4 linked regions of the Homo sapiens genome follow. Changing the gene in region 2 together with the main gene of any one other region gives a genetic interaction. Each region holds a gene or a part of one and is shown on either strand. Other genes may lie near its edges.

What was found.
Region 1: changes in EGFR (region 2) and PPCS together harm fitness more than expected from each alone (negative genetic interaction), as found in Homo sapiens cells (2 studies listed by BioGRID).
Region 3: changes in EGFR (region 2) and EIF6 together harm fitness more than expected from each alone (negative genetic interaction), as found in Homo sapiens cells (2 studies listed by BioGRID).
Region 4: changes in EGFR (region 2) and COPE together harm fitness more than expected from each alone (negative genetic interaction), as found in Homo sapiens cells (2 studies listed by BioGRID).

Annotation. Positions count from the first base shown.
Region 1 is NC_000001.11:42,452,302-42,459,542, forward strand, and holds the start of PPCS (phosphopantothenate--cysteine ligase), read left to right. Parts: upstream 1-4,241; 5' UTR 4,242-4,264; coding exon 4,265-4,772; exon of another isoform or gene 4,773-4,945; coding exon 4,946-5,049; exon of another isoform or gene 5,050-5,266; intron 5,267-7,241. Other genes in the region: ZMYND12 (zinc finger MYND domain-containing protein 12), read right to left, coding at 3,587-3,696. UniProt on the Homo sapiens protein: Catalyzes the second step in the biosynthesis of coenzyme A from vitamin B5, where cysteine is conjugated to 4'-phosphopantothenate to form 4-phosphopantothenoylcysteine. Has a preference for ATP over CTP as a cosubstrate.
Region 2 is NC_000007.14:55,155,010-55,162,027, reverse strand, and holds part of EGFR (epidermal growth factor receptor isoform a precursor), read right to left. Parts: intron 6,199-7,018; coding exon 6,082-6,198; intron 5,496-6,081; coding exon 5,369-5,495; intron 5,270-5,368; coding exon 5,196-5,269; coding exon of another isoform or gene 5,185-5,195; exon of another isoform or gene 5,089-5,184; intron 4,366-5,088; coding exon 4,275-4,365; intron 1,890-4,274; coding exon 1,690-1,889; intron 530-1,689; coding exon 397-529; intron 1-396. UniProt on the Homo sapiens protein: Receptor tyrosine kinase binding ligands of the EGF family and activating several signaling cascades to convert extracellular cues into appropriate cellular responses.
Region 3 is NC_000020.11:35,281,757-35,289,594, forward strand, and holds the start of EIF6 (eukaryotic translation initiation factor 6), read right to left. Parts: upstream 3,017-7,838; 5' UTR 2,970-3,016; intron 2,962-2,969; exon of another isoform or gene 2,737-2,961; 5' UTR 2,732-2,736; coding exon 2,625-2,731; coding exon of another isoform or gene 2,506-2,624; coding exon 2,420-2,505; intron 1-2,419. Other genes in the region: protein FAM83C, read right to left, coding at 4,779-6,216, 6,705-6,829, 7,035-7,202. UniProt on the Homo sapiens protein: Binds to the 60S ribosomal subunit and prevents its association with the 40S ribosomal subunit to form the 80S initiation complex in the cytoplasm. Behaves as a stimulatory translation initiation factor downstream insulin/growth factors.
Region 4 is NC_000019.10:18,916,372-18,924,195, forward strand, and holds the start of COPE (coatomer subunit epsilon), read right to left. Parts: upstream 3,017-7,824; 5' UTR 2,978-3,016; coding exon 2,852-2,977; intron 1-2,851. Other genes in the region: probable ATP-dependent RNA helicase DDX49, read left to right, coding at 3,371-3,485, 4,209-4,332, 5,292-5,377, 5,472-5,593, 5,955-6,142, 6,233-6,373. UniProt on the Homo sapiens protein: The coatomer is a cytosolic protein complex that binds to dilysine motifs and reversibly associates with Golgi non-clathrin-coated vesicles, which further mediate biosynthetic protein transport from the ER, via the Golgi up to the trans Golgi network.

The sequences.
Region 1 (7,241 bases), on a different chromosome or scaffold from region 2:
TAGTGAATTACAGAATGTACGCCCTGACTAAAGACATTTAAATTCATGCAAACCTATGGTACTGAAGTCTCTTTTACTTGTCACCAATGTTTTAGTATGTACTTCCATAAAATTACCTTTTCTTAAAAATGTTCTACTGTCCTGTAATCCCAGCACTTTGGGAGGCCGAGGAGGGCGGATCACAAGGTCAGGAATTCGAGACCAGCCTGACCAATATGGTGAAACACCGTCTCTACTAAAAATACAAAAAAATTAGCCAGGCGTGGTGGCGCATCCCTGTAATCCCAGCTACTTGGGAGGCTGAGGCAAGAGAATTGCTTGAACCCGGGAGACAGAGGTTGCAGTGAGCCAAGATGGTGCCACTGCGCTCCAGCCTGGGTGACAGAGCAAGACTCCGTCTCAAAAAAATAATAAAAAAATAAAAGTTCTACTGTGTCTCTAAAGTAAATAAAAATGTGCTATTCTCTGAGAATGGTCATAATCCACTATAGAGCAATATGCACAAGATTACACACAATATATAAAATAAATGTATTCAGAGAAAAGAAGGAAATTCACCAAAATTTCAGGTTATTAATCCCTGGGTTGTGGGACTATGGCTTATTTTTCTTCTTGATTTTTTATATTTTCAGGTTTTCTGCAGTGAGCATGAATTGCAATTATAATCAGGAAAAAAATTCTTTTGCAGAAAAAAACTTTCACAAATTCAGACTGACTTTCTTGTTCCTTAAACTTGGGATGATGAAAAGGAACATTTACTGTGTGCCAACATGGTTCCAGGAAGGGTACTAGATGCTTTACATTCGACCATCAAAACCTATAGAACAACAACCTCAGTTTTGTTTTATCAAAAAATCTTGAAATCTGCAAGACCCAAAGACATAGAAATCTGGAGAAAAGGAAGCAAAAAAACAAAAGGAGAAGGTCTTAAAGAGAATTAAAAGCAAGTAAAAGAAAAAAAATCGAAGATAAGGGCATAGAAGATGATAATTTATACATGCATTTATCAGATATTAGTGCCAACTATGTCTTTTTTTTCACATTTTTATTTTTTGGCCCAAGGGATAAAAGCACAAGTGCCAACTATTTCAAGACACTTTGCTAGAGACTATGGGGCATACAATGACAGGTCGGACATAGATCAAAAGTTAGCATACTTGACAGTCCCTCTGTACACATTTGACATAGTATCTAGCATTAATGGAGCATAACAGAATTGAAATAACACACTCACCAACAATTAAAATGAAGAGAAATATGAGTCATCTGAGAGATACAGAGTACTGTAAAGTTAGTTCAGAGGAAGAAGGAATTACTTCCGGCTGGAGGGATACAGAGGACAGGGGTGTTTTAAGGAAAAAGTCAGTGCTCACACCAAGCAAAAGGATTGAATCTTTCCCAAGCCTGAGTGGCAGGTTTTACCCACGGCGGTTTACTGGCCATCTCTCTGGGGGTGACCCAAAGGCCTCTTAAACTCTATGCCTACAACCAAATCTGATGCCCGTCATCTTTTCCCCGTGTTCCTTGCCCAAGTTAATGGGTTTATTATCCATTTAGTTTTATTCAACAGATGTTCATTGAGTGTCTGGTATGTGTGGCCACTGGGTCTAGTAAAAGACATAGACATCAGACAAGCAAACACAATAATATAAAAGTACAGAAAAAGCAAAGAAAAATGGTACTGTGAGAGAGAAAAGTATGACGGGGAGTTGAGACTGGGTTTAGACCTCTTTGAAGAAATGACATTTAAACTGAGAACTGAAGGATGAAAGGGAGCCAGGAAGGCTTGTAGTTGAAGGGGAGGTTCCTAGCAGAGAGAACAGACTGGGAAAAGAAACTGAGGGAAGAAAGGGCTTAGCAAATTAGAACTTCAGTTCTCTATAACTACAGCAAAGAAAAAATGGGGTGAGTGTGGTGGGAAGTGAAGGTAGAGAAATAACCAGGGCCTTGTATTTTCTGTTACAAATTCTTAATTATATTCTAAAGGCAAGGAAGCCACCAAAGAGGAGATAGCAATGAAAACACAGATACCATCCCTGCCCTTGTGGGGCATACAGCCTAATGAAAGAAATAAATAAATGATTTCAGTCCATGTCCTAAGTGTTAGGATAGGGGACATACTCAGTGCTTTGAGAGCACTGAGGAAGGACACCTAGGCCAGTATGAGAAGGTACTGCAACAGCTTCTTGATCTGTTATGCAGCCGTCAGTGTCTACCTTCCTCTGTATCTGCCACACTGCAGCCCATCCTCTTTCCTTAACACAAATGAGAGCATGTCAGCTCAAAACCATTCATGGTTTCCCAGGAGATAAATTCCAAACCCTTGATCTCATGTCACTGTCTAGCCCTAACCTTTATCTTCTTGGTTTAAACTTCTACTACCTATCACAATGATGTTCCAACTTTTTTTTTTTTTTTTGAGACACAGTTTCACTCTTGTTGCCCAAGCTGGAGTGCAATGGAGCGATCTCGGCTCACTGCAACCTCCGCCTCCCGGGTTCAAACGATTCTCCTGCTTCAGCCTCCCGAGTAGCTAGGATTACAGGTGCACGCCACCACATCCGGCTAATTTTGACTCAACCTATAGTAAGAAATACATTTTTCCTGTACACACACACATGTCCACATAAAACACTAAGACAAAAGTTTTAAGAAACAATTCAGGTAGGATTAACCTGATACTTTCTACTCATTCTGTGCTCTTTTTTGTTGTTGTTGTTTTCTCTAAATGGTGATTGTGACTTATTCATAAACTGCTAAAGGGCCCTGGCCTGCAGTTTGAAAATCACTGACTGCTCCCTCCACTACTACGTTCTCCACTCGGCCCTTAGCAAACTCTGTTCTTTTGCCATTTGCCCTAGCAGTCCCGGATGCCGGGAATGCCCTACCCTTCTTCACTACTCCTGTACACAGCAGGTTCTGACTGCCCTCTCAAAATGCAGCTCAAATGTTTCTTCCACAGGGAAAGCTTTCCACATACTGCCCCATTCACTATCGTCTCACTCTCGTTGCCCAAGCTGGAGTGCAGTGGCGCGATCTCCGCTCACTGCGAGCTCCGCCTCCCGGGTTCAAGCGATTCTTCTGCTTCAGCCTCCCGAGTAGCTGGGATTACAGGCGCCCAGCACCACTCCCGCCTAATTTTTGTATTTTTTAGTAGAGACAGGGTTTCACCATGTTGGCCAGGCTGGTCTCGAACTCCTGACCTCAGGCGATCCGCCCGCCTCGGCCTCCCGAAGTGCTGGGATTACAGGCGTGAGCCACCGCGCCCGGCCTGTTTCTTTACTGATTTGTCTCCCACATTGGAATGTTAGATCTTTGAAGGAACTGATCTACCGAGCTGCCCCAGTAACTTTAGCACCTAAAATAGTGCATAACACAGAGTACGCCTTCAGAAAACATGAGTGACGAATAAGTGGGAGATGAGACAGACGAGGCCACGGGAGTCTTAGGGGCCTGTCTTAAAGCCGTTTTGAGGTGTCCCTTGCAGAGTCAGGGGCAACGGCTAACGCAAGGTACCCAAGCCAGACCCGGGAAAGGGAGAGAGGGAGGGAGTTATAGCGCCCAGGTGCCACGTTTCAGGGCCTACCAGTAATAAGTGACTGTGCAGGCCGCGCACACCCGCTCGGCTGGGGCTTCGCACACCTCACAGCAGAGTCTGCGCCCCTTGGGGACTGCCAGTGGGTAGATCACATTCATGGTGCAGCCAGCAGTGCTGGTCTCTAAGACGGTTGCCCAGCAAGGATACGCTGAACCCCGGCGTCACGTGACGATCGCGGGGCTGCGTACTTGCCAGCATTTCAAGGGCAGAGGGCGGCGGGACGTGACTCGACTAACATCTGGGTGTATTGCTGAAGTTGGAAAAGGGGAAGAAAGAAAGAAAAAGCAGCACAAAACCCACAAGTCCCACGGGTCAAATGGCCGAGAAACGACTCCCAAGGAGTCCAAGTCCAGAAAGGCCCGTACAGTGGCCGGTAAGGGTCAAACATGGCCAGTTCTTCACCCAGGCTAGGAAACGAACGTGAGGGAACGTGACCCTACCAGATGCCCACCCAGCCGGGGATCCCCCTCGTTGCAGTGTCACTTTCGCTGGGCTCTGGGGCAGAACAACTACGCATTTCCAGACTTGGCGAGATCGGGACCTAGTGTCAAAAGAAGGGTAGTGAACCGCCCACTCAGTACGGCGCGGCGCGTACACCAGGTAGGCGAGAAGGGGCGTGGCGCGGCGGCCGCGAAACGTGCGCAGGCGCCGGCCGCTGCGCTGCAGATGGCGGAAATGGATCCGGTAGCCGAGTTCCCCCAGCCTCCCGGTGCTGCGCGCTGGGCTGAGGTTATGGCTCGCTTCGCGGCCAGGCTGGGCGCGCAGGGCCGGCGGGTGGTGTTGGTTACGTCAGGCGGCACCAAGGTCCCACTGGAAGCGCGGCCGGTGCGCTTCCTGGACAACTTCAGCAGCGGGCGGCGCGGTGCAACCTCGGCCGAGGCCTTCCTAGCCGCCGGCTACGGGGTCCTGTTCTTGTATCGCGCTCGCTCTGCCTTCCCCTATGCCCACCGCTTCCCACCCCAGACTTGGCTGTCCGCTCTGCGGCCTTCGGGCCCAGCCCTTTCGGGCTTGCTGAGCCTGGAGGCCGAGGAGAATGCACTTCCGGGTTTTGCTGAGGCTCTGAGGAGCTACCAGGAGGCTGCGGCTGCAGGCACCTTCCTGGCAGTAGAGTTCACCACTTTGGCGGACTATTTGCATCTGTTGCAGGCTGCGGCCCAGGCACTCAATCCGCTAGGTGCGTGCCCTAGGAGTACCCCTTTTGCCTGGAAGCACAGCCTTTCTTTCCAGCCACTTATCCCCTTACCTCCTGCTTACCCACGGATCTCAGCTGGGGAACCCGAGTTGAGAAGGAGCTGATCCTATATCGTACCTCGCCGATTTGTTAACACCTTGTGTTTCTCTTTGCAGGCCCTTCTGCGATGTTTTACCTGGCTGCGGCTGTGTCAGATTTCTATGTTCCTGTCTCTGAAATGCCTGAACACAAGATCCAGTCATCTGGGGGCCCACTGCAGGTGATGGGCGCTTCTCTTCCAGAGATCTAATCCCATATAACCAATCTTGGGTTAATTTCCTCTTGATCTGGAGATGGCCTTTCTGCATCTGTATTCGCTAGGCACAGGGGATACAGAGATGAATAAGACACCGCCCTCCCTCATGGACCTCACAATCTAGTGAGGGAGCTGGACACAGACATAATTACAATACAGAGTGATAAATGCTCTAGTGGAGGTATGTACAAAGTGCAGTCAGATCATGGGGCGAGTGAATCCTGGGGGAGTCGATGAAGCTTCTTGGAGGAGATGAATTGAACTGGGTTTTAAAAGATGAGCAGAACCGAGCGCGGTGGCTCACGCCTGTAATCCCAGCACTTTGGGAGGCCAAGGAGGGCAGATCGCCTGAGGTCAGGAGTTCGAGACCAGCCTGGCCAACATGGTGAAACCCCGTCTCTACTAAAAAAATACAAAAATTAGCCGGGCGTGGTGGCAGGCGCCTGTAATCCCAGCTACTCGGGAGGCTGAGGCAGAAGAATCGCTTGAAACCAGGAGGCGGAGGTTGCAGTGAGCTGAGATCTCGCCATTGCACTCCAGCCCGGGCGACGAGAGCGATACTCCGTCGCAAAAAAAAAAAAAAACACCAAAAATCAAAACAAAATGAGCAGAGGGTGTACGAAGTGGGAAAGGTCATTCCAGGTGGAGTATGGCAGTAGGAATTTGAAAGTGGGCAGTGGGCTGTGAACCGAAGTGCTTTGGTAAGGCTGGAGAGCTGACTGAAGAGATGGCTTGCTTTGTAGAAGACTTTATTTTCCTTTTTTAAGGAGCTTGGACTTTTTCTTGTGGAGCTAAGGGACACATAAGTAGGAGAATGAGATAAAGTTTTTGTTTGAGAACAACATTCTGGCATCAGTATGAAAGACGAAGTAGAGAAGGAGAAAGTGGAGTGGGTAGATTAGTTGGGGGCTATTGTAGGTTAAGGAAGAAATATGGATAAGGTAGGTGTGGTTGTGATTTTAGATTTTTGGAACCTTCAGGAGTTCTTAGTCATTTATTGGGTGATACAGGTAGGATTTTATTAGGAGAAACTCTTATCTGTGGGGCATTTGCCGACTTTGTAGAATAGTTTATTGAGGTCCTACACTGCTGTAGGACTTAGAGATGAAAGCAGTGAAAAGAAACATACCCTGCCTTTGTGTTGCTTCCTCTGCAGAGGAGACAATAAATAAGTCAAATACATAACTCGTTTAGTAGTGATAAATGCTAAGGAGAAAAATAAAGTATAAATAAACTGGTATATGATCCCTATCACACTAACAGCTTTTTTTTAGGGCAAAGTCTGATGATTAGCTTAGTGATTTCACGCTTTTTAATCTCTGGGATCTTTAGTTTATCCCACAGTTTTTAGTTCTATCTTGAAAGTAACAAAGCAACTGAACATTACCCTGAGAAGGGATTGGGGATGAGGTACTAGGAGTTTTGGTCAAGTGAAAATAAAATCAGTTTCCTCACTGCTAAGTTGTGTTACATGTGACAATTTAAAAATGGAATCTAATAGCCATTCTACCAATGCAAGAAATATTTTAGGCTGAGAGGTTTAAAAACCCAACTTTATTTAGGCTTCTGCCAAATATTTGTATGAACAGATTATTTGTATCTGTTTATTTGAGGGTTTGGTTCAAAAATAAAGGGACATGCTTGAGAAAATATTAATGGTGGTAAGGTTGGCAGAGCATGGCAGGGCTTATTCAGAAGGCATGGTTTGCCCCAGAATATGTATGGAGCCTTGAATTTAGGCATCGCTGTGAACTCTACAGAGCCAAGGCTTTTTTTTTTTTTTTTTTTTTTTGTGAGACAAGGTGTCGCTCTGTTGCCCAGGCTGAAGTGCAGTGGCATGAACACAGCTCACTGCAGCCTCAACCTTCCAGGCTCAAGTGATCTTCCCATCTCAGCCTCCTGAGTAGCTGGGACTACAGGTGGGTGCCACCATGCTTGGCTAATTTTTGTATTTTTTTGTAGAGACATGGTTTTGCCATGTTGCCCAGGCTGGTCTTGAACTGGGCTCAAGCGATCCACCCATCCTGGCCTTCCAAAGTGCTGGGATTACAGGCCAAGCCACTGTGTTCCCCTAAGACTTTTTAAACTAAACATTTAACTGAAAAGTTTGATGGTTGAGAAATCCCACTTAAATTTAATTCCTTAGTTTCCCATGA
Region 2 (7,018 bases):
TGTTAATTTATTTTCACACACCAGGAATCGGGCACTACAAAGAAAAGCCCAAATGGCCACGGTGTTGGCTAGATGAACCATTGATGACTGTCTCATTTGTCTTAGGAACTTTTTGTAGCTTAGAAAAATTTAAGATACTTCCAGGAAAAGAGATTCTATAAATTATTGGATTATATTAGGCAATAATACTTGCTTATTTCCTATTGTGCTTAAATTTGCCAAAAATAACGCAATCAAACAACTTCCCGTCTCCCCACAGAAAACCCAAAACCTCCAAAAGCCAAGGGCAAAGAATAAAAGGAAGAGAAAATCAAACAGAATGCCTGTAAAGCTATAACAACAACCTGGAGCCTTATTTTTGATCAACGCAAGGGGATTAAAGAAATAACCTCCTACCCCTCCAGAAGGTTGCACTTGTCCACGCATTCCCTGCCTCGGCTGACATTCCGGCAAGAGACGCAGTCCCTGGGCTCCGGGCCCCAGCAGCCCTCGGGGGAGCACAAGGCATGGCAGACCTGGCCTGTGGCCTCTGCGGAGACAGAGTGGGTCACAGCAGTCAGTGACAGAGCAGGGACCCGAGGGGCCGGAGGAGACGGCACCTTCCCGGGAGGGGCCCTGTGCTCCATGACCTTGGGTGACACAGACATGCTGGCTACCCCTGAAGGAGGAGGACACAGACTGGGCTTCCCAGAGGCCGACCGTGACTGGAAGGACAAAGTAGTTGTGCTGGCTGCTGGGAAGACTGAAATGTGCCTGACAGTGGAGGACAGGTCTTCCTCCTGGTGGGAGCCAGGCACCCTGGCACCCGAGAGGGGGTGCCGTGAGTCCTCCCCTTTGGCAATGGCATCAATTAAACCAGATGGGACTCCATGTTTTCTGTGCTCCCACGGCCACTGCCCCTGCTGAAGGAACCAGGTGTGCAGAGGAGCAGGTGCTGCTGGGCACAGGGTGTGTTTTGATGGTACCCAGGGCAGCCTGGAGCAGAGCTGGTGGTGTTCTGATGACAAATCCCACAGCTGATAGGAGCCATTGGGCCATTGGCTGTGTGCTGTGTGCTAGGCACCATGGAAGGGTTTTACACACAGGAATTTCACTGAATTCTCTCAAAGCACTACGGCGTAGGAATCATTCATATCTCCATTCTATGGATGAGGAAGCCAAAGCCTAAACAGATTAAGGGAATTGACAGAGGCTCAAAGCTAGGGAGGCCAGACCAGCACTTGACTCAAAGCTGACGCTGCCCGTGGCCAAGGCCCAGCACAGGCCAGGCTCTCACCAGCTTCAAAAGCTGAGGCTCTAGAGCCAGAACAGGAAGTGTTGATGTAAAGTGCTCATTCCATTCCTCTGTGTGTGTATGTGTGTAGCTGTAGTCTTTACAGGCTGAAATGAGCAGAGAGTGACCTACAACTAAAAGGTAATATAACTAATACTAAATTTAGTTACTTACATTACAAATAATTGGTAGCCTAAACCTCAGGGTAAATTCATCCCATTGAATGGTAATGATCTGGAAAAAGTTTTAATGGAATTCACATGGTAATTTCACAGTTAGGAATCTTAAGATTTTAATTTGCTTCTTAAGGAACTGAAAAAAGTAATTTAAATGGGAATAGCCCTTCAATATTCTAAATACAAATAAAGGACCCATTAGAACCAACTCCATAAACTAAACAGAAAGCGGTGACTTACTGCAGCTGTTTTCACCTCTGTTGCTTATAATTTTGGTTTTCTGACCGGAGGTCCCAAACAGTTTTTTCCAGTTTATTGTATTTGCATAGCACAAATTTTTGTTTCCTGAAATTATCACATCTCCATCACTTATCTCCTTGAGGGAGCGTAATCCCAAGGATGTTATGTTCAGGCTGACGACTGCAAGAGAAAACTGACCACTACATTGGAGAGAAGAAAAATCATGTGGTGAAAAATTATAAAAACAATGTATCCCTGAAAACTTTGTTTCTCCAGACCACCTTTGATTGACTACAAACTGCTTTCCAATGATGGTAGGTCATGCTGTGGGAGGCACACACTGCACCTTTTGAAAACTGCAGGTGTTTTTAAAGTTCCTCCAGGCAAAAGATAGTTCCTTGTTTATTTAGTATCTTTAACCCAGTGGCAGATGGGGAGGATGAATAAAATGCCTTAATGTCATTATATTTTCTCCATTTTCATTTTGCCTGGAAATTGAGAACATATTCTAACCTCTCAAACAGCCAAATACACTTCAAAGGTGTGGGTTCATCCATCTATCCACCACCCAACCTGTCCCTCTATCCATTCATATATTTATTGAACAAACACTAGAGGTTCTCTGTCCCAAATTCTGTGCAGGTTAAATATGTTTCCTCCTCTCCAGGACGCTTGATCTGGTGGTGACACAACCCCGTAAGCAGATCATTTTGAGCCGGTGTGAAGAGCACAGTGAGTGTGGGCAACATGGAAGCAAAGAGCAGGGGCCTCTGACCAGGTCTGGGAGGGATGCCTGGGAAGTGGGGCCTTCCTCCAAAAAGCTATGCCCAAGGTTGTGAGGCCCTGAAAGCAGTAACTGTGGCATTTTCTTCACCATCCAACATGACACTAGGATGCTATTGGGTGGTCCAATGTGTATATCAGATGACTGGATGGAAGTCATTCAGACCGAAGGGGGGATGTCCTCAGCCACCTGGAGGAGCAGGAAAGCACGCGGTGGACATGAGAACCACTAGCCCCAGCCAGACCACGATGGGTGTGAGAACCACTAGCCCCTCCTGAACCACGATGGGTATAAGAACCACTAAGCCCCTGCCGGACCACGATGGGTGTGAGAACCACCAGCCTCTGCCAGACCACGATGGGTGTGAGAACCTCTAGCCCCTACAGGACCACGATGATGCAGGCTGGGAGGGCTGGGCTGGTTTGGGGAGGGAGCACAAGGCCAGAGTGCACCTTGTGGAGGAGCTGTCTGTAATTGAGAAGGAGCCACAGGAAAGAGATCTGCATTTGCAGGAAGCTCTCATCTGACCCCAGGCTGGGGGCTGGGCCAGCTGAGAGCACTGGATGAAGAGACTGATGTTCAGGTGTTGGATGGCAGGGGGTTAGAGTATCATCCAGAGGCTTCTCCTCTCCCTGCTGCTCTTCTTTCCCCCATCTTTTTCCTTTCTCCTACACAGATGAGTGGTCTCGCATAGGAGCCTGTAACCAATACCATTAGGAATTCTCCCCCACATATGCCCAGGGAGGCCAGGACACCAGGGCAGAGCCAGGTTTTCCTTGCAGGGCAGGTCTGGGGCCTCAGTGAGTCACACCCTGGAACGTGTGGCCACCCTGTCTCAGTAGGAGCTGGAATCACCAGACTTCTCATTAAATGTGAAAAGTAAGTAACCCTTATCTTGTTTAAATCCCTACAACTAAGCCAACTGGCTCATACCAGCCATCCAAGAAAATTGCTCTAAATCTCTTATTTTTATAAGAATCTTGGTCAAAGAAAGCATTCCAGAGAATTCAGAGCAAAAAGGCCTTTCTGGGAAGCAACGGTAGCCACATATTTAGTATCAGAGATTCAGAGCCAAGGGAGTTTATGGGAGGCAATGCATATTTCACGCACTCTTATTCTCTTTAATGTTGCACAGTATTATCTAGTGCTTTAAGAGTCAAGTAGGGGCAGCAGTTCTCATAACGAGGCTGCTTCCAAGGCGGGTTTCACTAAGAGATTCCCATCTCCTCCTCCACACCACTAAACTGATGATTACCATTACCATATTAAAGATGCTTGTGTGTGAGCACCTGCATGTCTATTCCACTGTCAAAGCTGAAAAAGTGGAAATTCTTGAAGAGTGGTGCTAAAAAGTCTCTCTGGTCCCTGTGATAAGATGTGCATAACCTCAATTGCATCCTGAGAAAACACCAGCTGAACAGACATGGTTAGACAGTGTGCAAAGTACCTGACCCACACGTTTTGTAAGTGTCAAGGCCGTGAAAGACAAGGAAAGACACAGGAGCTAATATAGGTTAGAAATGGACTGAAAAGATTTGACAACTAAGTGCAATGTGGGATCTGGAGTGGACACAGAAGCAGAAGCACTGGCGAGCGCTGAGAAGTCTGTGGTTTAGCGGACAGCCTGTGCCAGTGGTCGTGCAGTCTTGCTCCCTGTGCCTGCTCATGTGAGATAGCATTTGGGAATGCCGGCGAGAGATGCAGGAGCTCTGTGCCCTATCTTAGCAACTCTCCTGTTAAGCCTAATTTCCAACTAAAAAGGCAAATGTAATCTACCAGGCTTTGGCTGTGGTCAACTTACTGTTGCTTGGTCCTGCCGCGTATGATTTCTAGGTTCTCAAAGGCATGGAGGTCCGTCCTGTTTTCAGGCCAAGCCTGAATCAGCAAAAACCCTGTAAGGCAGATGAAAGACTTCAGACACACACCACGTAGGAGTTTCTTTTTTGTATGAGACATTACTCTAGACTCTCAGGGACTCTGTATTATATGAACAGTAAGTGGGAAAATTGGATTTGCTTTCTTTTTCATTATCATCTTCTCTGAGTGTACATGCGCAGGGCGGACGCAGGCCGAGCCACAGTTCACAGCTGCCTCCCGCCTTCCGCTGCGATTCCGCATGTCTCCCGCCGCCCCCCTGGCTGTGGCCCTGAGACCCCTGCTGCGCCGCGTATCTGATTACCCCGAAGAGGCTCCTGCTGCGATTATCTGCCAATTGTGGATCTGGTATCACATACAAGGAGCTTTACAAATTTTCCTTATTTGATTCCAACCTTAAAACAGTCTTGTTATTTTGGTCTAATCTTCCCATTTTAGAGAGGAAGGAAGCGGAGCTCAGGCGGCAGTCATAGACCCGAGGCTTGCCCGTGGCCCCACAAGGCTCTGGCGTCCAGTTTCAAAAGCCTGAGGCCCAGGCTGCCTGTCACCTACCCCTGTCCCCTCCCTCTACCCTCAGGGGTTATGGGCCACCAAGGCAGCTGGCTGGGGCCGGGCGGGAGGGAGAAAGCGTGTTTACACCGCAGTGAATGACCCAAGCCTGGACTTAACGTGTCCCCTTTTGCCTGCAGGAGAAACTGCACTTTTGAAAAATATCAAAACATCAGCCATTAACGGTAAAATTTCAGAAGAAATGTTTTTATTCCAAGGGAACAGGAAATATGTCGAAAAGTTCTCTCTCTAAAACACTGATTTCCCATTTATATTCATGTGATAATTCAGCTCAAACCTGTGATTTCCTTTACGGTTTTCAGAATATCCAGTTCCTGTGGATCCAGAGGAGGAGTATGTGTGAAGGAGTCACTGAAACAAACAACAGGGTGATTATTGATCACCAATCTCTACCAGTTAAAAAGGCAGATTTTGTTTTTCTTTATACAAGCAACTGAACCTGTGACTCACCCCCTAAATGCCACCGGCAGGATGTGGAGATCGCCACTGATGGAGGTGCAGTTTTTGAAGTGTTTAATATTCGTAGCATTTATGGAGAGTGAGTCTTTAAATTCACCAATACCTATTCCGTTACACACTGCAGAGATAAGAGAGACGTGTATTCCGTTCACATTTGTTGGATTAAGAATAGCTAGGGATCCACAGGCAGAGGGAAGCAGGAAGGAATTCCGGTCACCGGAACCGCCACTGCCACATCATCCTTCATTCACTCAACAAACACTGAAGGGGCTGGGGAGAGTGCAGGCGGGAAGGGGGGACACCAGGACCTATAGTACACTTTGGGGCTACGGCGGTGTAGGAGATGCCATCCCTGTCACCTCACACTGACCTTGCGTTCTCCTCATTATTTCCCATGGGCCGCTTGGAGCTGCACTGCTTCCAGCTCTGCCTTCCCTGGATTCTCCCCAGGGCTGGGCACCTGGCAGCTGCTGAGCGGGGCTGGCTCTGTGACTGTTCTCATCAGAGCCCCCCACCCCGTCACAACCTTCAGTGCCTTCCCATTGCCTAACCTAGCTTTACAGCTTTATCTTCTGTTTTAAAGAAACGATATGTATAGTTGTTTTTTAATGAGAAGAGGAAGATGTGTTCCTTTGGAGGTGGCATGAGAGCCCAGCCTCAGCAGCCGAGAACAAGCCTCGTCCGCACACCGGCGGGCTTCCTACCTTTGCGGCAAGGCCCTTCGCACTTCTTACACTTGCGGACGCCGTCTTCCTCCATCTCATAGCTGTCGGCCCCACAGGCTCGGACGCACGAGCCGTGATCTGTCACCACATAATTACCTGGGGAAGAGAGCATGAAAGGAAGGTGATGACGGTGGCACCAGGTGCTCGGGCCTCACACAGGCGGTCCAGGTCCTCTTGAGGGGTGATGGAAAGGCTCCATCCTCCTTTGGCTTTATTTACTTTAAGGACAAAGAATGAAAGGTTGCAAATAGAGAAGGAATCCCGTTCAAGAGTTTAATAACATTCTAGGCCGCAATGTGGACAATACAGGTGTTTCATCATGGCAGGAAACACTGGGTCCCTTGAGGGGCCAGCTGTTTTGCGTCCCAGCAGGCACCTCAGCCCTCTCCTCCACCTGCTCTCACCTTTAAAGTAATTCATTTGTATTAATAGCAGACTTCTGCGTTATTTTTAGGAGCTCTATGTCTTCCTTTTTTGTTTGTCTGAGATGGAGTCTTGCTCTGTCACCCAGGCTGGAGTGCAGTGGTGTGATCTCAGCTCACTGCAACCTCCGCCTCCTGGGTTAAAGCAATTCTCCTGCCTCAGCCTCCTGAGCGGCTGTGATTACAGGCGTGCGCCACCACGCCCGGCTAATTTTTGTATTTTTAGTAGAGACGAGGTTTCACCCTGTTGGCCAGGCTGGTCCCAAACTCCTGACCTCAGACAATCCAGCCCCTTCAGTCTCCCAAAGTGCTGGGATTAAAGGCATGAGCCAATGAGCCACTGTGCCTGGCCTGTTCCTGTTTTAAGTTCCCCAAGAAGATCCTCAAAAATATTTATAGGACATTGATGATTCTTCTGTGAACCATCTGCTCTTGGTATCTCAGGCTCGAAGTGTTTTCCTATGGATTTTAAAGCTCTGTTAAGCCCTATCTCA
Region 3 (7,838 bases), on a different chromosome or scaffold from region 2:
AATTTTTACAAGTCATCAATTCCAAGTGTTGGCAAAGATATATGGAGCAACTGAACTCTCATACTGAGACAGGAGTGTAAGTTGGTCAATCACTTTAGATAATTATCTGGCATCATCTGCAACTACTACTAAATAGTCACATAACCTGTGACTCTGCCATGCCACTCTTAGGTATCATATACCCAGTAGAAATATGTACATGTGTTCACTAAAAAAACATAGCAGCACTATTACTTTTTTTTTTTTTTTTGAGACGGAGTCTTGTTCTGTTGCCCAGGCTGGAGTGCAGTGGCACAATCTCGGCTCACTGCAAGTTCTACCTCCCCGGTTCACACCATTCTCCTGCCTCAACCTCCCAAGTAGCTGGGACTACAGGCACCCGCCACCACACCTGGCTAATTTTTTTGTATTTTTAGTAGACACGGGGTTTCACCGTGTTAACCAGGATGGTCTCGATCTCCCGACCTCGTGATCCGCCCGCCTCGGCCTCCCAGAGTGCTGGGATTACAGGCGTGAGCCACCATGCCCGGCCAGCAGCACTATTCCTAACAGACCAAAGTGAAAACTGCCCAAATGCACTGTCGATGGAATGGATGAATACGTTGTGATATACTTACACAAAACACACCATACAGCAACAAGAATGAACAATCTACAAATACACGCCAATCAATTTCTGAATTCCAGGTCACTCCCATCATAAAATACACAAGGACTAAGCTAAAATCTCCCTTGTTGTCAGAACTTGCTTCAAGTCCTAAGGGCATGGTTAGAGATCAGAGTATTTTAACTGAATAGGAAAATACTTTGAGGTCACTAGGCTTAAGTTTTTGTTGTTGTTGTTTTTTGTTTTTTGTTTTTTTTTGAGACACAGTTTCACTCTTATTGCCCAGGCTGAAATGCAATGGCACAATCTCAGCTCACCGCAGGGTGAGCTCCACCTCCAGGGTTCAAGCAATTCTCCCGCCTCAGCCTCCCAAGTAGCTGGGATTATAGGTATGCGCCACCACACCCGGCTAATTTCTGTATTTTTAGTAGAGACGGGGTTTCTCCATGTTGGTCAGGTTAGTCTCGAACTGCTGACCTCAGGTGATCCACCTGCCTCGACCTCCCAAGCAGGCTTAAGATTTTTAAAAATTAAAGTAAAAGTAAAAAAATAAAATAAACAGACTTCTAAAAGTGACCTCAATGAGCAGAACTAAGAAACAATGGGCAGCAGTAATGGAAGACAGATCCAGCTTAATGAAAGGACCGGCCGGGCGCAGTGGCTCACGCCTGTAATCCCAGCACTTTGGGAGGCCGAGGTGGGAGGATCACCTGAGGTCAGGAGTTCAAGACCAGCCTGGCCAACATGGTGAAACTCCATCTCTACTAAAAATACAAAAAAATTAGCCGGGTGTGGCGGGATGCGCCTGTAATCCCAGCTACTTGGGAGGCTGAGGCAGGAGAATCACTTGAAGAGAGTGTTGCAGTGAGCCAAGATCGTGCCATTGCACTCCAGCCTGGGCAACAAGAGCGAAAACTCCATCTCAAAAAAAAATAATAATAATAATAAAAAGGAAAGGACCAACGACCAGAATTAACAGTGCTGACAGGTAGGAAGGTAGGGTAGAGATGTGGTAAAGGGAATTTAAGATTCCAACGTAACTGAGCAGGAAGACCGCATATCTTAGCTAATCTTTACAGAGACAGAAATGGATGCTTAGAAAGAGAAAGCACCTTGCCCAGTCAGTGGCAGGGAGAGATGAGATACAAATCCTCGGCTGGGTATAGTGGCTCTCGCCTATAATCCCAACACTTTAAGAGACCAAGGTAAGAAGATCACTTGAGCCCAGGAGATCAAGGCCAGGCTGGGCAACACAGGGAGGCCGCGTCTCTACCAAAAATGTAAAAATTAGCCAGGTGTGGTGGCACGTGCCTGTGGCCCTAGCTACCTGGTAGGCTGAGGTGGGAGGATCACTTGAGCCTAAGAAGTTGAGGATGCAGACAGCTGTGATCTTGCCACTGCACTCCAGCCTGGGCGAAAGAGCAAAAATCTGGCCTCAAAAAAAAAAAAAAAAGAGAAAAATCCTTCTCCAACACTAGGAACTAGGTGTGGAACTTACTGAGTCACTTAGGTCAAGTCTCAACTTCCTCATCAGTCAAGTTAGGCCAGTAACTCCTACCTTCTAGTGTCTTTGTGACGAAGGAATGAGAACAGGAGTGAAAGCACTTTACATTATTTGTTATTACTATTATCCAGCAGCCTTTGCTAGAGGGTTGCCCCGATCTCCTGACGCTTGGCCTGAGAGATTCTATAGTGCCCAGAGATAACAGATGATACCCTGGGAATCCCTAGGTCACTCCGGGTTCCCTCCGGGGGTGTAATTAATGGTGCTTGGAGACCACTCCCTCCCTCGGCGTCCTCCACCTGCCTTACCCACACACATGCGCCCGATGATGCGGCAGCCGGCGATAGACGCGTGCACCACGGGGATGGTATCGGAGAGCTCGCCCTCGAACACACTGTAGGGACATGGACTCGGTGGTGGCGGGGCAGAGGGGCCGGCACCCTCCCACTGCCGGAGCTCTTGACTCCTGCGCACGCCTCCCCGCCACCGTAAGCCCCGGGGCTCCCGCCGCACCTGTAGAAGTTCTCTGAGCCTCCGATCGCTACCAGACAGTAGGTGTTGGTGAGCTTGGCAAAGCAGCCGATCTCACAGTTGTTCTCGAACGAAGCTCGGACCGCCATGAGGCCTAGGGGCGGCGGAGGCGGGAGTTCAAGGCCGGCGGATCCTTTCCCAAGTATCCCGGCCTCCGTCCCTCAGGCCCCGCCGCGACCCCGCCCCTCTCGGCCTCCCGGCCCCTCCGTCCTCGGGTCCCGCCCACTGGGCCCCCACCAGAACCTCCGGCCCTGAATCCTCTGGCCCCCACCCCTCCCGACCCAGGACCGGAGCTGACCCTCCCAGGTTCCCCTCACACCAGCTTACCAAGTAACCAGTAACAAGCTCCGCACGCGGCGACTGTACCTTGGACTCCCTAAAAAGGTTTCCGTTTCCACTTCCGTCCAGGGAGACTTCCGGGAGAGCCCGGCGCTCCCCGCCACGCATCCAGCCCCTCTACCTCCGGCCTCCGGCGGACTCTATGGTCGCGAGCGGTCTGGGCGCGACCCCGCCTGGCCCCACGCCTAGCCTGCTCGCGTTCATTCATTCATTATTCATTCAGGAGCTTTTTAGGAGCTGTCATCGACCTAGACCTCCGGCTGGTCGGTTGTGAGGCATGAGGGAGAGGAGGGGCCAGGAGTGTCTCGCGGAAGGGTTGATGATGGAGGTATTGATGGAAATGAAGCCGGAGGAAGGGCAGGTTTGGGGAAAGGGATGAGTCCAGCTGTGCCTTGAGGGACAGAAGTCCATGTCTGGAGCCCAGCAGGGGAGTGGAGTGCTGACGAATGAGATGAGGGGCTGAAGACGGGTGGACTAGAAGAGGCTACCCATGGAGAGAGTTCCAGGAGGCAGAAGTGCGGCCAGACCGAGGCTGGAGAAAGAGCGCAGCCAGAGACGGAAAGGCAGCCAGGCTGCAGGTGCTGGAGAGAGGGGAGGACTGAGGAAGCAGGGGCTCAGGAAAAGGCTGGAAAGGGGTCCAGGGTGGGCAAGGATGTGGGTGCTGGTTGGCTTCCACGATGTGCCTCTCGCACGGCCTCTATCACTCACTCAGCAGCCAACTTCTGTCCCCAGGATAGTGATGGGGGCCAAGGGCCCTGCTGCACACTTGGACAGGATGAACTTGGCCCACATTTTGTAGAATCTGCAAAAGCCCCGGGTTCTCTCAAAATGTCACAGTGGTAACTTGGAGCCCCTGGACTCCCCCAATTCCTCCTTCGGCATTCACCCTCCTCCAGGGGTTTCCCCATAATTGGCCTGAATGGTGCCCTTCCCATTCCCCCAACGTGTCCCTCCCATAACTCCTCAAAGTTCAGGATACACCAGGCGCTGTGATTCACAATAAAGTCTGCCTTTATTGATGTGTATCATGTTTACTATCCCGGGTAAGTGGTGAGTTCAGGAAAATGGCCCACAACCTGTCACAGCCTGTACTTCAAGAGACACTCAGCAAGATGATGACGACGACAATGATGATGATGATGATGATGACTCAGCAAGATGATGACGACGACAATGATGATGATGATAATGATGATGTGTGTGTGTGTGTGTTTCCGGGTATCCACATACTCTGCTCTTCCTCACTCATTCACCTCAGACCCACTCAGTCCTCTTTAGGGCATCTCTTTCACCTGATTCTCTCTACCAAAAATTTTTCTAACTCTCTCCTCCCTCTGTCCAAAACCTCCCCATCCTTCAGGGCCTGGCTCAAAGGCCACCTCCATCTCCTCTAAGAAAGTTTTCTGACTACTCCACCTTCTCCAGGACTCTCTGCCCTTTGTTTTCTAACACCCTCTGTAACTGGTTAACCTTTAACTTGATATGGCTCTGACCCCTTCTCCAGCAGCTTGTGCATTTCACCTCTGTCCCCAGGTCTGAGTGTGACCCACCTGTCAGCTCTACAGGCCCAGCACAGGGCTGGAAACACAGCCTAGATTCAAGAAGATACTAGTTAGGGTGTGTGTGTGTGTGTGTGTGTGTGTGTGTGTACACAAGAATCTTGAGCCCAGAGAGTGTGTCTGACCTGGGTTTCTAGACACCTCCCTTCCCCAGTCTGGGACCTGAGCAAGTCCAGAGTCTCGGTGGACAGAGGAGGGGCCTGCCCTTGCCAGTGCACCCCCGATGCCAGTCCTTTGGCTAGGACTCAAAGCGGCTTCGGAGCTGCTTGAACTTGGACTTGTTGTACTTAGTGATGAGGTCCAGTTTGCTGTGACCCAGGGTCAGCCGTTTCTCATCCCTGACCAGGTCACTGTTACCACCATTGAGATGGCCACCCTTGGGACCCCCAGGCTCAGTTCCCTGCCTGGCCCCGTGCAACTGATGATACTTGGTGATGAGGTCCAGCTTGCTGTGGCCCAGGGTTAGCCGTTTCTCATCCCCAGACCCAGCTCCAGCCGTGCGAGCAGGGCTTGATATCGGGAGACCATTGGGCCCAGGCCCCTCACCACGGAATGGGCCGAACTTTGTGATGAGGTCCAGCTGGCTGTGCCCCAGGGTCTGCCGCCGCTCATCTGGTGCCCGTCTGGCAGGTCTGGCTGAGGAGTTGGTTTCAAGGGGCACTCTGGAACCCTGGGCCTTGGGGTACTGCATCAGGAGGTCTGATTGGCCACGGCTTTGGTTTAGGGACAGCCTCCTGTCCTCCAGGGCCCGATCACCAGGTCTGAGGGAACCCAACTCAGGGGCACCCCCAGTACCCAGGGCTCGGGACAGGAGATCCAGCTGGCTGTCGGCCTGGCTTGGGGACAACCTCCTGTCCTCTGGGGCCTGCTCGCCAGGCCGAAGGGGGCCTGAGTTGGGGGTAACCCCAGAGTCAGGGTCTCCCACTTCTCGGGCTCTGGGGAAGGGGACAAGGAGATCCAGCTGGCCACGGCTCTGACTTGGAGATGCCTTCTTCTCCTTCTCCTCCACTGTCTCCAGGGTTGTGCCAGGTACCCATCGACCCCGCAGGGGGCTGGGCTCTTGGCTTCCTGGGAGCCCATTCTCTGGGAACCGGGACAGAGCTGGGGCACCCCGATGGAACTGGAGGAGGGGCCGGGAGCGAGGAAGCAGAGGTGACCCCACTGCCAAGGTTAAGGGGCTGGTACTATTATGGTTGAGGGCAGGGGAGGACTGGGACCATGGGTATGCCCCTAGCTTGCCGAGATTGGCCCTATAGAGCCCAGGAGGGGAGCCGTGGTTAGGGTCTGACAGTTGGCGATGTAGGGAGGGCTGGCCACTGGCCTCACGGCGGGCAGGACCCAGGGACGAGGACACCACACCCGTATCACTGCAATCACCACCTCCTGGTAGAGCGAGGTAGGAGGAGCGACCCATAAGCGGTGACTGCTTGATGCTGCTGAGGCTGGTGCTGGAGGGCAGGGACGACGTGGGGCTTGGGACATCAGGCCTGAAGGCTAGGGCCACAGGGGGAGGACGCAGTGCCCGGGGAGACAGCGGGTCCTCACCGCCACAGAAGCCCTCCACAGGCTGCGACTCAGCGTACAGACAGCGGAACTCCCGGTCAAAGTCTTCCACGATGCGGCCCCTCAGCTGCAGCACCATGCTAGTGTGGGCCTGGCTGCAAAGCCAGGTGAAGCTGGGGGCAGAGGGACAGGGGGGTCAGGAGGCAAAGTGCAGGATCCTGGGGGTCGGCAGGAGTCACAGCCAGGGGTGCATACCTGGTCCAGCACGCTAGACCCAAACCCCACCACCACGAGGGCTCACAGCGAGGGGCAGAGCTCCAACTCCAGAGTCTGTGCTTGCCCTAGCCCTGCTTAGTGTGTGACCTCATGGAGGCCCCAACTTCCCCATCTGTCAAATGGACTTGGGGGAGGTTCCCTGAAGTCACTCCAGTTCCAATGGGCATAGTCATTTTCTATACCAAGGGTATTAAAGTAATCATTCCCCTAGAGTGAGCTCCTCCAGGGCCGATGCCCCCGACACCCTCCCCTGAGCCTGGCATGATGCCTGGCACATGGCAGGTACTCAGCCCGTGTCCGAAGGAAAGGATGAGTGGAGGGAAGCTCAGAGCTGCCAGCCAGTGATGCAGCCCCAGGCCCCCCTTGCCTCCTCGTGCCTGCTCACCTGTAACTGCCCGCCACCACTTGCTCACAGTCAATGAGGACGAACTTCTCCAGGGCCTGCCCCGTGAAGCGGCGGCCAGCCTTGCTGCAGTATGTGTCCCCACACGTGCTCCGCACACGCATGTTCTAGGTGGAAGTAGGTTGGGGGTGACCTTGAGAGAGTGAGGCTCAAGCCATGTCTCTGCCCCATGGGGTCTCTAACCCCAGACAGCTAAGGGAACCCACCCCCCACTCCCAGTGCCCCCCAGTGCTGACTGGCCACCCACTGGCTCCCCTGCCCTCCCTGACTCCCCGCCCACACCCCTGGTTACTGCCCCTGGTCCTCACTGACCGGCAGGTGCTCCCCATTGAGGTCCATCTTGTAGCACATCTCCAGGAAGTGCCTCAGGTGCTCCTGGGCAAGGAGCAGGTACACAGGGACACCACGCCGGCTTGAGGCCTCCATGAGGTCACACAGAAGCTCCATGTCAGTGAATATGTCCATCACCACAGCCACCACCTGGGTGGGGGGAGGCACACGAAAGCTCAGCGCTGCCCAGGGCACTCCCCACATCCAGCCAAACCTGGGGCAGGAAACTGGGCGCCGGGAAAAGAGTACTGGACTGAAAATCAGGAGGCCAGAGCCTTCAAGAGCAAGTGAACAGGAAGGGCACTTAGCAGTGACCTAGCCCAGGGCTTCTTAACTTGGGCACAGGCAGATTTGACTGTCTTCTTTTTTTTAAGAGTCAGTGTCTGTCTCACTCTGTTGCCCAGGCTGCAGTGCAGTGGCGTGATCATAGCTCTCTTCTGCCTAGAACTCCCAGGCTCAAGCAATCTCCTCCCAACTCAGCCTCCCAAGTAGCTGGTATTATAGGCATGTGCCACTATGCCTGGCTAATTTTCTTTTCTTTTTTTTTTTTGAGACAGAGTCTCACTCTGTTGCCCAGGCTGGAGTGTAGTGGCGTGATCTCGGCTCACTGCAACCTCTGCCTTCTGGGTTCAAGCGATTCTCGTGTCTCAGCCTCTCAAGTAGCTGGAATTTCAGGCATCCACCACCATGCCCAGCTAATCTGTATTTTTAATAGAGATGGAGTTTCACCATGTTGGCCAGGCTGGTCTCAAACTCCTGACCTTGTGATCTGCCTGCCTTGGACTC
Region 4 (7,824 bases), on a different chromosome or scaffold from region 2:
GGCCAGGCGTGGTGGCTCACACCTGTAATCCCAGCACTGTGGGAGGCTGAGGCGGGCAGATCACTTGAGGTCAAGAGTTCGAGATCAGCCTGACCAACATGATAAAACCCTGTCTCTACTAAAAATACAAAAATTAGGCCAGGAACGGTAACTCATGCCTATAATCCCAGCACTTTGGGAGGCTGAGGCAGGCGGATCATGAGGTCAGGAGTTACAGACGAGCCTGGCCAACACAGTGAAACCCCATCACTAGGAAAAATACAAAAATTAGCTGGGTGTGGTGGCACACGCCTGTAGTCCCAGCTACTAGGGAGGCTGAGGCAGGAGAACTGCTTGAACCCGGGAGGCAGAGGTTGTGGTGAGCTGAGATCGTGCCACTGCACTCCAGCCTGGGCAACAGGGCAAGACTCCATCTCAAAAACAAAAAAACAAAAAAAAAATTAGCTGGGTGTGGTGGTGGGCACCTGTAATCCTAGCCACTTGGGAGGCTGAGGCAGGACAATCGCTTGAACCCAGGAGGAGGAGGATGCCACTGCACTCCAGCCTGGGTGACACAGAGTGAGATCCTGTCTCAAAAAAAAAAAAAAAAAAAAAAAAAGTATTCCTTCACAGTCACAGTCCTGGAGGCCAGAAGTCCCAAATCAAGGTGTCAGCAGGGCCACACTCCTTCCAAAGGCTCTAGGGGAGGATACTTCCCTGCCTCTCCCAGCTTTTGGTGACTGTTACATTCCTCAGTTTGTAGCCACATTACTCCCATCTCTGCTTCCATCATCTCTGTGTCTCAAATCTCCCTCTGCCTTTTTTTTTTTCTTTTTCCAGTGGCGGGTTCTGGTGAAGACAAGAAAGCCTACTAGAAACATTCTTTTTTTCTTTTTTTTTTTTTTTTTTTGAGATAGGGTCTCACTTTTGACATAGTAAGAGCACCAACATCTCAGACAAACACTGCCACTTTAAGTTCCAGCCCCCTTTCTAGCCTCATGAATTTTAAGGAAATTTCTTTTTTCTTTTTTTTTAATAGAGAAGTCTCGCTCTTGTTCCCCAGGCTTGAATGCAATGGCTGGATCTTGGCTCACTGCAACCTCCACCTCCTGGGTTCAAACGATTCTCCTGCCTCTGCCTCCCAAGTAGCTGGGATTAAGGTGCCTGCCACCATGCCCGGCTAATTTTTGTATTTTTTAGTAGAGACGGGGTTTCACCAAGTTGGTCAGGCTGGTCTCGAACTCCTGACCTCAGGTGATCCGCCCGCCTCCCAAAGTGCTGGAATTACAGGTGTGAACCACCGCGCCCGGCCAGGAAATCACTTCTAACTACAAGCAGCCAGAAAGAGGAGACAGTAAAACACAGAAAGACAGCTCGGACAGAGAGAGAGTGGGAAGAAAATTTCTTGGGTAACTGCCAAACTTCACCTTCATACAACGGGCCCCAGTAAAACAGTGGGCCTTAATAAGCACATTCCTTTCCCTTCAGGTGCACTAAAATAGGCAAGCTAAAAGCAGAGTAGGGGGGTATGCCTGCAGCTGCAGAAAGATGTATGGGAGGCTGGGCACGGTGGCTCACACCTGTAATCCCAACACTTTGGTAGGCCAAGGCGGGCAGATCACAAGGTCAAGAGATGGAGACCATCCTGGCCAACATGGTGAAACCCCGTCTCTACTAAAAATACAAAAATTAGCCGGGCCATGGTGGCGCGCGCCTGTAATCCCAGCTACTCGAGAGGCTGAGAAAGGAGAATTGCTTGAACCTGGGGGCGGAGGTTGCAGTGAGCCGAGATCACGCCACTGCACTCCAGCCTGGCAACAGCGCGAGTCTCCATCTCAAAAAAAAAAAAAAAAGAAAAGAAAAGAAAAGAAAAAAGAAAGATGTATGGGAACAGACACACAACTCTCCCTCCCAGATAAGCACAACGAAGAGACACAGAAGCAGTTCAAGCCTCTGATAAACTCTCCGACCCTGAATCCTTAAAAACTCTTAGTCTGTAAAAGAGTGTTACTCTGACCCAACTCCGCCAGAAGGCGCCTCTCAGGTTTGTTTTCTCTAAAATAAACCTGTCTTGACTGGCAAGCCACCTTTCGTGTTTCTTTCCTCTTTAATTCTTACAACTTTGTCACCCAGGCTGGAGTGCAGTGGCGCGATCTCGGTTCACTGCAACCTCGGCCTCCGGGTTGAAGCGATTCTCCTGTCTCAGCCTCCCGGTAGCTGAGATTACAAGTGCCCGCCACCACGCCCGGCTAATTTTTGGTAGACTCATGGTTTCTCCACGTTGCCCAAGCTGGTCTCGAACTCCTGGGCGCATGCGATCTGCCCGCCTCGGCCTCCCAAAGCGCCAGAATTACAGGCGTTTGAGCCACTGCGCTGGGAAACTGTGTTTATCATTCTGAGTCCAGCGGAATACAGTGCCCGTCCAAAAAAGTGCTCAATGAAGAATGAATGAATGAATGGGTAAGCTCTGGGAGAAATAACCAGGCTGGTTGGGCAGGGAAACGTCCTTCTCTGAACTTTAGGGTTCTCATCCGTAAAATGAGGATAAGCAACAGTCTCCATCTCACGGGAACTGAAGGTATGGCTGAACAAAATAGGCTTATTGTCACTACAGTGGCATAAACACCTCCCTTACTCAAAACACTTTCAAGGGCGCAGAGAGAACGCTGTACGAGTGAGCAGTACCGTAAACTGTTACTGCTCTGGGTTCTGTCACGGGACAGTGACTACTCCTCACTGAACTGTGGAAGAGGTGGCCCAAAAAACGCGAGAAGAAAAGAGAAAGTTTTTAGACGCAGAACGCGGCTCGCGGCCACCAGAAAGCGTCCTCCGCCTCCGCCCCCAGCGTCCCCGCGCCCCTGCGCGGCCGCACCTTCACCCGCTGCGCCTCGTTTATGCACTGCTGGTAGCTGCCGATGTAGAAGGCGTTCTTTACGTCGAACAGCTCGTCTACCTCCCCGGAGCCGCCGGAGGCCGGGCCGGGGGCCGGAGGCGCCATTTCGCTGTCTTCTCACCAGCTCCTCTTCCTGAAAGACACGTCAGCCGGAAGCAAGACACGGGCACGCTAGGAAATGTAGTTTACTTTTTCCGAGCGGCGGCGAAGTAAGCCAATGGGAAGCTCCACAATAATATGCAAGGGGGCGGAAGGCGTAAGTGCGTCACGGAGAGCATCTCGGGAATTGTAGTGTGTTTCTGCAAGCCAATGGGATCCGGGGAAACATGATAAGGATGCGGTCGAGGCTGGGAATAGGCTGAGGGAGCTGGAGAGGGTGGGACCACGCAGGAGGCAGATCCAATAAACAGGAAGATTTTTCTCGTGACGTCGTCGGCGCGCGCCGGAAGCGCGGATCACACGGGCCCCTACAAGGGGCCCCTACAAGCGGCCACAAGGATGGCAGGCTTCGCGGAGCTCGGGCTGTCATCGTGGCTCGTGGAACAATGTCGGCAGCTGGGTTTGAAGCAGCCCACGCCCGTGCAGCTCGGCTGCATCCCCGCCATCCTGGAGGGTGAGTATGGCCCAGGGCCTTCCCCAAGAGGCCTCTCCGCTCCTCTCGACTCCTTTCCCTTCTCGCAACCTTTGCTTATTCCGGTCCCACGAGGCGAGGGGCAACCTCGGGCGTTACAGGAGATCCGGGGTTCCGGAGGACGACTGGACAGTGTTGGCATTTAGGTTGCATGACTGACTCGCTTTGTGTTCGTACGCAAGTGATGTAATCTCTGAAATTTTCATAGTCTCAGCACAGGGAGGGTTTGATGGATGACTAGTCCGATAGTATCGCAAAATCCTGCAGACCTGGTACTGCTATCTTTATTTTACAAATAGAAGTTGAGGCTGTCAAAATTGCTGGTAGATCCAGGACTCCTTGGTCCTGTGATTGCTCCTCTAGGAGAAGGTCTTCTCTCTGCTCCTCTAGCCCAACCCAGTTTCGCCATTAAAGAGAGGCCCACAGGAAGCCTAAGATGTGATAAGTCAGGGATTAAATAAACAAATGAAGGGGTCAACAGGGAGCACAAGATGCATATGAGGGAAGGGAATTCTGGATTCCCCAAATTCACGTGCTCCTGGACGGAGTTAGAACGAGGTGGTAGGAAGCTGTGGGCATCTCGGGTCAAATGGATATGGGTTCCAGTCCAGCCTGCCACTCACTGGCAGTGTGTCCTGGGCAAGGTCTCTGAAACCCAGCTGTCCACACATGGAGGGTGTTGATGCTGCTTTGTCCCCAACCCAGGTCGAGACTGCTTGGGCTGTGCTAAGACAGGCAGTGGGAAGACAGCAGCGTTTGTCCTTCCCATCTTGCAGAAGCTGTCTGAGGATCCCTATGGCATCTTCTGCCTCGTCCTGACACCCACCAGGTAAGCCCCCAGCAGGCCTCCTGGGTATGGGTTAACCAGCTGTGCTCTCTTGGGCAAGCACCTTTCCCTCTCTGAGCGCCCTTTTCCCACGTGTGAGATGAGCATGAAAATCTTGCTACCCGCTTCTTAGGGGTCCTGCAGAATTAAACAAGATGGCCCCGGTGCAGTGGCTCACACCTGTAATCCCAGCACTTTGGGAGCTCCAGGTGAGCGGATCACTTGAGGCCAGGAGTTTGAGACCAGCCTGACCAACATGGAGAAACCCCGTCTCTACTAAAAATACAAAAAATTAGCTGGGCATGGTAGCGCATGCCGTAATCCCAGCTACTCGGGAGGCCGAGGCAGGAGAATCGCTTGAACCCAGGAGGCGGAGGTTGCGGTGAGCCAAGATCGTGCCATTGCACTCCAGCCTGGGCAACAAGAGCAAAACTCTGTCTCAAAAAAAAAAAAAAGAAAGAAAGAAAGAGGCAGGCAGCAGAAAGGGTACTGGGACCTGGGCATATTGGAGCCAGTTTGAGAAAGGCCTTGAATGCCAGGCGGAGGGTTAGAATTGATTCTGGGGGTGTGTGAGCAGGAAAGGTCATGAGCCAGGGAGAGGCCAGGACAGAGTTGGTTGGGGGCAGAAAGGAGGCTGATGCTTGAGACCCTCTGGCTGGGGCAACTGGCTGGTGGTGAGGCCATTGCTGAAAGGCGAACTGGGGGAAGGCACAGGTTTGGGATAGGAAGAGATGCTGAGGTCAGCTTGGGTCGGGCTGGTGAAGGAGGGATGTTCCAGGCTGAGCCTGGCGAGGGGGCAGGGGCCACAATGGCCTCCAAGGCTCAGCATCAGAGCCTTTGTGAACAGGACTGGGCAAGTCAGGAGCCTGGGGGCTCAGGGAGGAACCCTGGGGATGGAGAGGGGAATGGGGGGCAGGTCCAGAACCACTACCTGACCCAGCCTGGCCCCTTCACACCCACAGGGAGCTGGCCTACCAGATCGCAGAGCAGTTCCGGGTCCTGGGGAAGCCTCTAGGGCTGAAAGACTGCATCATCGTCGGTGGCATGGGTACGGGAGCTGGGAGGCGGGGGAAGCCCCAGCATGGGACCCTAGCAGCTTTGGACCACCTGCCCAGCCCTGCCTCTCATGCTCTGTCCCCCAGACATGGTGGCCCAGGCGCTGGAGCTCTCTCGGAAACCACACGTGGTCATCGCCACGCCGGGGCGCCTGGCAGATCACCTGCGCAGCTCCAACACTTTTAGTATAAAGAAGATCCGCTTCCTGGTGAGTTCGCCCCGCCCCTGCAGACCTCAGGAGCTGGGCTCGGAGCCTCCAGGCCCAATGTCAGAGCCTGGGGCACCATCTCATCCATTTAGGAAACGTATGTCCGTTAGACTGTCCAGTAAAACGCTAGGAACAGTGACAAGGACCGTTCAAGGACCAACAAGAGGGGGCCCAGTCCTAGCAATGTTATTCGGGGGTAGGGCCTTGCTGAGACTTGGGTGAGGGGCAGGCCTCCCTTGGAAGGAGGGTACTCCAGGGCCTAGGGTCCATGTCCATGCCTCTCAAAGAGGCCTGCTTCAGGGGTGGCCAAGACCCGGGGCCATGGACGGCACCCTCACCCCTGCCCCCATTGGCACGGCAGGTGATGGATGAGGCAGACCGGCTGCTGGAACAGGGCTGCACTGACTTCACCGTGGACCTGGAGGCCATCCTGGCGGCTGTGCCGGCCCGCAGGCAGACACTGCTGTTCAGCGCCACGCTGACCGACACACTCCGGGAGCTGCAGGGTCTGGCCACCAACCAGCCCTTCTTCTGGGAAGCACAGGCCCCGTGAGTCCACAGCCCAGACAGCGTGGGGAGGGCAGCCCCATCCTACAGACAGGGACACTGAGGCGTGGCGGTCTATCTGTCCATCCCCAGGGTGAGCACCGTGGAGCAGCTGGACCAGCGCTACCTGCTGGTGCCTGAGAAGGTCAAGGACGCCTACCTGGTCCACCTGATCCAGCGCTTCCAGGATGAGCACGAGGACTGGTCCATTATCATCTTCACCAACACGTGCAAGTGAGCGGGGCCCGCCTCTCCCCTCCCACCGCCCTTCAAAGGAGGAGGTGGCCCGACGTCTTTGGTCTGGGACACACAGCCAGTCTCAGCACTCCCCAGCCTCTGCTCAGCCTGGAGGTCATGGGGGCTTCCCTCAAGGAGCCAAGGTCCCTCAATCTGAAGGTGCAGCCGGCCTTTGGGGTTCCTCAGCCCAGCCGTTGATGGAAGGGCCAGGAAACCCCTGCAAGCAGCTGTTTGAGCAGCCCATTTGCTGTGTTCTGGGGGTGTCACTGAGCTTTCCTGGGCCTTTAGTCCCATCTCAGAGGAAGTTGTGACAACTAACAGGCCTGGTGTGCGTCTGCACAGACAGAGACCCCTGGGGAGGGCAGTTCATATCTTCATTGAATTGTTTGGGAAGGTCATTGAGAAGCTGGAGGCTCTTCCAGCATGAGCCAGGATAGAAGGGCAGAAATCAAGGCGCTTTAAATGCGTTACCTCCCAGAAGAGAAAAGTTGGGACTGGGTGCAGTGACTCACACCTGTAATCCCAGCACTTTGGGAGGCCGAGGTAGGCGGATCACCTGAGGTCAGGAGTTCGAGACCAGCCTGCCCAACGTGGTGAAACTTCATCTCGACTAAAAATACAAAAATTAGCCAGGCATGGTGGCGAGCACCTGTAGTCCCAGCTACTGGGGAAGGTGAGGCGGGAGAATCACTTGAACCCGGTAGGTGGAGGTTACAGTGAGCCGAGATCACGCCACTGCACTCCATCCTGGGGGACAAAGTGAGACTGTCTCAGGGAAAAAGAGAGAAAAGTTTGGCTGCAGGGTGGCTGTCAGGCGTGGCAGGATCCAGCAGCTTATGTGATGGTCCCCATCCTTTCTCCCTGTGCCCCTCTTTCTCCTCTGTTTTCCTCTGCTGGCTCCTTCTTGGCCTTCTTGGTAACAGTGACCACCCCTAGCAAGTCAGTTTCCAGCCTTCCAGCCCTGCAGTCCCAGGGCCAACTCTTGTCAGTTCCAGCTCCAGGGAGGGATCAGCAGAGAGGACATCAGGCAGGCAAGCCGTCTGTCAACCCTCATCCTGCCTCTTTTTTTTTTTTTTTTTTTTGAGAGTCTCACGCTGTCCCCCAGGCTGGAGTGCAATGGCGCAATCTCGGCTCACTGCAACCTCTGTCTCCTGGGTTCAAACAATTCTCCTGCCTCAGCCTCCTGAGTAGCTGAGGCTACAGTCATACACCATCATGCCCGGCTAATTTTTGTGTTTTTAGTACAGATGGGGTTTTGCCATGTTGGGCAGGCTGGTCTTGAACTCCTGGCCTCAAGTGATCCACCCGCCTCAGTCTCCCAAAGTGCTGGGATTACAGGCATGAGCCACCGTGCCTGGCCTGCTGCCTCTCCTTTCTAAGCTGCATGAGGCCACTGTGCTAGGTGTCTCAGGGGCGGGTGGGGGCAGGAACACCTTCCCAGAACCTGA